Linked DNA regions of Homo sapiens: region 1 is linked to region 2. Evidence: fine-mapped expression QTL. A gene starts in region 2. The other region holds a variant in brackets. All regions are shown on one strand. Distances are from middle to middle. Region 1 overlaps ZFR2 (zinc finger RNA binding protein 2). Region 2 holds the start of ZFR2 (zinc finger RNA binding protein 2).

Region 1 (2,831 bases), 64 kb before region 2:
TCAGACAGAGCCACATGCAGGCTGTCCTTCAAACACAGAGAAACAAAACTGAGCCACTGGCTGGAGATCACATCTGCCCAAAGGTGGACTTTTCTCATTCAATGCCACTGGGCAGCTGGCCAAAGAAAAAAAAACTGACCAAGCGGAAGGTTTGAACAGGTTGGGGTGGGGACTCAGAAGGGGGTGCCCCCACATCCATCAGTGCCAGGAGGCGCCTGCCCACCATGGCCAGCATCCACAAGACGGCGGCCCCTCCCCGGGTCCCCCAGGCACGGGTCCCGGGCCCTGCTACCACAAGGGGGGATTGGGGACCCCCTGCCTCAGGGCCAGCCAAGGCCTACATCAGGGAGAGAGGGAGGAAGGAAGGACGGAAGCTCAAATCCAGGCCTCAGTGACACATGGCAGAGTGGGTTTTCTCTGTGAAAGGCACTCAGTGGTACAGGGCTCGGGGCGGGGGGTGGGTGGGGGTGCCTCTGGGCTCCGGGTCTGACTGTCCAGCACAGCTGTTCCCGGGGGAGGCCCAGCCAGGATCCTCATCGCCCGTCGGCGTGTCCACCTGGCCCTGTGGCTCTCCCCACAGGGGACGAGCCTGGCTCAGGCCCTGCTGACATCCTGGCTGTGGAGGTGGGTGGGGGGTCTGTTTGGAGCAGGCTGGGCTGGGGGCGTGGGGATGCCGGCTGGGAGCTCCCCTGGGCTTGTCCTGCACATGTGGTGGGGCCCCAGAACAGGGCCTGCCCACGTGATTTCAAATCCATGCCGCAGCCGCATCCAAAGAAAGTTTTGTTTGTTTGTTTGTTTGTTTGTTTGTTTCTTTGAGACAGGGTCTCGCTCTGTAACCCAGGCTGGAGTTCAGTAGCGCAATCTCGGCTCGCTGCAGCCTCGAACTCCTGGGCTCAAGGGATCCTACGGCCTCAGCCTCCCGAGTAGCTGGGACTACAGGCTTGGGCCACCACAACTGGCTAATTTTTTGTAGAGATGGGGTGTCACCATATTGCCCAGACTGATCTTAAACCGCTGGGCTCAAGCGATCCACCAAGCTTGGCCTCCCAAAGTGCTGGGATTATAGGTGTGAGCCACCATGCGCAGCCCAGAGGAAGTATTTTAAAACCCCTTCCTGTACCACGAGGTGAGTTTAGAGCCAGCAAGATGCCCCCGAGTTTAGAATCTGCTTGCTGTACTGCTGGCCCCCCTGGCTGTGGGGGATGGGGCCCTCGAGGAAGGGGTGCCACTCCCAGGGCTGGATGGTGTCATTTCTGTAACAATTTAAGCACAAATGTTAAAAAACATTTCTTTTAAGTGACAAAGTCTTCTTCTGTTGCCCAGGCTGGAGTGTCACGGTGCAATCACAGCTCACTGCCCTCCTGGCCTCAAGGCTCCGGACTCAGCCTCCCAAGTAGCTGGGACTACAGGTGCACACCACCACGCCAGGCTAATTGTTGTGTTTTTTACTAGAGACAGGGTTTCACCATGTTGACCAGGCCGGTCTCGAACTCCTGACCTCAGGCGATCTGCCCACCTCGGCCTCTCAAAGTGCTGGGATTACAGGCGTGAATCACCGCGCCTGGCCACCAACCATGCCAAGCTGATTTTTAAAAATATTTTGGAGAGATGGGGGTCTCACTCTGTTGTCTGGGCTGGCCTTGAACTCTCAGGCTCAAGCAACTCAGCCTCCCAAAGTGCTGGGATTAAAGGCATGAGCCACAGTGCCCGG[T/C]CTGAAGCACAGGTGTTTTAAAGGAAACCTACAGAGCGTTACTCAAAAGGAAATGACCATTGTCCAACGTCGGGGATGAAGCAGCCATTGGTCGGCGCGCACACGTCCAGGAGTGCAGGGATGCAAAGGCCCGCAGGTGGGGGAGGTAGGCGGCTCACACGAGCCCCTCTCCGCCCCGCCGGCCCCGCTTCTTCTCCCCTGCGCCCTCCTCTCCCTCGCCAGGTCCCCGTTGCCTCTTCCGGAAGCGGGCCCCCAGCCGGTGTCTGGGCGGCAGGAGATCCATGCCCAGGACCTTGTGGGTCTGCCGGAAGGCCAGCATTCGCAGGGCGTGCTGCGGGGCACACACAGCCTGTCAGGACCCCCGCCCGCTCTGCTCCCCGAGTGCTGGGGACACAGAGGGGCTGGTGTCTGTGGCCACCAGCAGATGGGCCAGGCCTATCCTGTATCCCTCGAGATAGCCCCCGGCCCCCCGCCGCTTTCTTTTTTGAGACACAGTCTCGCTCTGTCACCCAGGCTGGAGTGCAGTGGCGCGATCTCAGCTCATTGCAACCACCGCCTCCCAGGTTCAAGTGATTCTCCTGCCTCAGCCTCCCAAGTAGCTGGGATTACAGGCGTGTGCCACCACGCCCAGCTAATTTTGTATTTTTAGTAGAGACAGGGTTTCACCATGTTGGCCAGGCTGGTCTCGAACTCCTGACCTTGTGATCCGCCCGCCTCGGCTTCCCAAAGTGCTGGGATGACAGGCGTGAGCCACCCGGCCCGGCCGACACCGCTTCTTACGACTGCGGAGCTTGGGTCACTGCAGGGCCTGAGGAATTTTCGCGTGGTGCCGGCTGACCACAAGGACTGTCCCAGGAGGCCCCCCCGCTCCACTGACCACCAGCTCTTTCCGCCTCACTGGAGGGACCCCACATCCTGCACTGCAAGCCATTCCAGTGATCCCATTCAAGGCAAAATTCAGAAACGTCAGACCCGATGCGGTTTGGTTTTGGTGCTGCTAGGAGATTTTTCTTATAAACAAATTTGCAAACAAGGTAACCACAGGTGAGGGCTGGGCAGGCGGAGCTGTCGGCCACGGCTGGGCTTCTAGGACCATGGTCAGTGGTGTGGGGGAGGACGG
Region 2 (2,847 bases):
AGTTCCCCACCAACCTCGGTTTCCGCCCCTCCCTGGGGTAACCTCCCAGGTCTCTGTCTTCTCTCCTCCACCCCACATCAGGGGTCAGGTTCCCACCCCTACTCCACACCCCACCCCAGGTCTCTGCCCCTGCCTGCTAGGTACCCTCCCAGGTCTCTGCCTTCTCTCCTACCCCCACCATCAGGGGTCAGTGCCCTCCACACTCGAATGTTGCTGCCCCCTGCCCAGTCGGGAAACTTCCCAGGTCTCTGCCTTCTCCTCCTCCAGCAATCGGGGATTAACGCCCCTCTGCCCTTCCCCTCCTCCTGCCCAGCCAGACACCCTCCCAGGTCTGAATTCTCTCCCCCTACCAGCAATCGGGGTCAGCTCCGCTCTAGCTCTCCCCCTGTCCAGCCAGACACCCTCCCAGGTTTCTGTCTTCTCTCTTACCCCCATCAGGGGCCAATTCCTCACCCCTCGACTGTGGCTTCCTCCTGCCCAGCCAGGAACCCTCGCTGATCTCTGTTTTCTCCTCCCCTACAAGTAATCGGGGGTCAGCTACCCTCTGTCCATCCCCCTGCCCGGCCAGGCACCCTCCCAGGTCTGTGTCTTCTCCTCCCCCCGCAATCGGGGGTCAATGCCCCTCTGCCCTTCCCCTCCTCCTGCCCAGCCAGACACCCTCCTAGGTCTGTGTCTTCTCTTCCCCTACCAGCAATCAGGGGTCAGCTCCCCTCTGCCCATCCCCACCCACTCCCCGGCCAGGCACCTCCCAGGTCTCCTCCCTGCATTGGGTCAGTTCCGTCCCCTCCCCTCCTCGGTCAGACCACCCACCCCCCGCCCGGGTCTGTCCCCTCTCGCTGCCCTCCTCGTGGCGCCCCCATCAGGGGCTGACCCCCCCGACCCCGCACAGGCCCAGGCCCAAACCCAGGCCCCCTCCCACTTCAGGAGCCCCCTCCCGCTCCCGCCGACAGACACCGTTGGCTGCAGAGACGTCTCAGCCGGAGCCCCGGAGCCCGCATCCCGCCCGGTGCCTAACCTGAGGCCGCCCCGCCTGCTTCTCCCGGCGCCGCGGCTTCCCTCAGGCCGGGGTTCCAGGTTGGGGCTGGGACTGGGGCCGGGCCGGGCGCACGCGGCGGGAGAAGGGGTAGGCGGGGTCCCGGCCAGGCTGCAGGGGCCGGGACTGGCGGGGGCTGGCGCGGCGGGGCAGTTACCTGTACTGCGGGCCGCCGCCCTGCGCGAAGTCGAAATACTGACTCGTCGCCATCTTGGCGTCTTCCCCGAGCCTGGCGGACCCGCGACGTCACCCGCCCCGCCCCCGAGCCGCGTGCCGCTCGCGCCTGGCCACGCGCCCCAAGCTCCGCCCCCTGCGCGAAGCCCTCACCTTCTCGCTTCCTTCTCTTAGGCTAGGGAGACACCGCCCCGCGACCACACCTGCCCCGAGGCCCCGCCTCCTACGCAGAGCCCCGCCCTCCTCTTAACCACTCAAATGTGGAGGTCTCTGCTCAAGCCCCGCCCATGCTAGAAGCCCTGCCTCTTTCTCGGAGCCCCACATTCCCTTTAACCACTCAGATGTGGTGGTATCTGATCAAGTCCCGCCCATGCTACAAGCCCCGCCTCTTACTCAGAGCCCTGCCTTCCCTTTACCCACTCAGATGTGATCTCTGCTCAACCCCCACCCATGCCACAAGCCCCGCCTTTTTTTGGAACCGTACCTTCCCTTTAACCATTCAGGTGTGGAGGTCTCTGCTCAAGCCCCACCCATGCCACAAGCCCCGCCTCTTTCTCGGAGCCCCGCCTTCCCTTTACCTGCTCAGATATGGTCTCTGCACAAGCCCTACCTCTGTCTCCGAGCCCCACCTTCTCTTTAACCACTCAGATGTGGAGGTCTCTGCTCAAGCCCCACCACCACCACAGCCAGCTAATTTTTAAATTTTTTGTAGAGACAGTGTCTTGCTATGTTGCCCAGGCTGATGTTGAACTCCTGGCCTCAAATAATCTTGCCTTGGCCTCCAAAAGTGCTGGGATTACAGACGTGAGCCACTGCATCTAGCCTCAGAATGACTCTTCAGAAGGCCCCCATGGTCTCTGCCTCCTGTGTTCACAACGTGATATAAATAAATGATAGGCCGGGCACAGTGGCTCACGTCTGTAATCCCAACATTTTGAGAGGCGGAGGCAGGAGGATCTTGAGCCCTAGGACTTTGAGACTAGCCTGGGCAACATAGCAAGACCCTGTTTCTACAATTTTTTTTTAATTAGCTGGTCATGGTGGTACATGCCTGTGGTCCCAGCTACTCAGGAGGCTAAGGTGGGAGGATCACTTGAGCCTGGGCTGTCAAGGCTGCAGTGATCTGTGACTGTACCACTGCACTCCAGAGTGAGACCCTGTCTCAAAAAAGAGAAAAGAAAGAAAGGGCTGGGCGTGGTGGCTCACGCCTGTAATCCCAGCACTTTGGGAAGGCGAGGTGGGCAGCTCACCCAAGGTCAGGAGTTCAAGAGCAGCCTAGCCAACATGGCAAAACCCTGTCTCTACTAAAAATACAAAAAAAAAAATTAGCCAGGCGTGGTGGGGCACACCTGTAATCCCAGCTACTCGGGAGGCTGAGGCAGGAGAATTACCTAACCCAGGAGGTGGAGGATGCAGCGAGCCGAGATCACACCACTGTACTCCAGCCTGGGCAACAGAGCAATACACCGTCTCAAAAAAATAAAAAAATAAAAAATAAAAAAATAAATAAATAAATAATAAAAGAGGAGAGGGAGAGGAGCAGGGAGGGAGGGAAGGGAAGGAAAGAAGAGAGAGAGAGAGAGAGAGAGAAAGAATTGAATGAATAAACAAATAAATGGAGGCAAACAGACAAATCTCTT

The links. PIP is the estimated chance that this variant, and not a neighbour inherited with it, causes the effect.
Region 1: its variant is the best candidate, but not a certain one, in a credible set for the expression of ZFR2 in nasal epithelium (TOPMed, PIP 0.83).

Annotation. Positions count from the first base shown.
Region 1 is chr19:3,804,084-3,806,914 of GRCh38, forward strand. ZFR2 (zinc finger RNA binding protein 2) reads right to left here. Exons shown (of 19, transcript NM_015174.2): 19 at 1-2,042. The coding sequence ends at 1,866. Among named protein-coding and RNA genes, the nearest start is that of MATK, 19 kb to the left of the region's middle. The variant T/C (reference allele first, on the strand shown) is at 1,712.
Region 2 is chr19:3,867,775-3,870,621 of GRCh38, forward strand. It overlaps ZFR2 (zinc finger RNA binding protein 2), which reads right to left and starts at 1,264. Exons shown (of 19, transcript NM_015174.2): 1 at 1,191-1,264. The coding sequence starts at 1,243.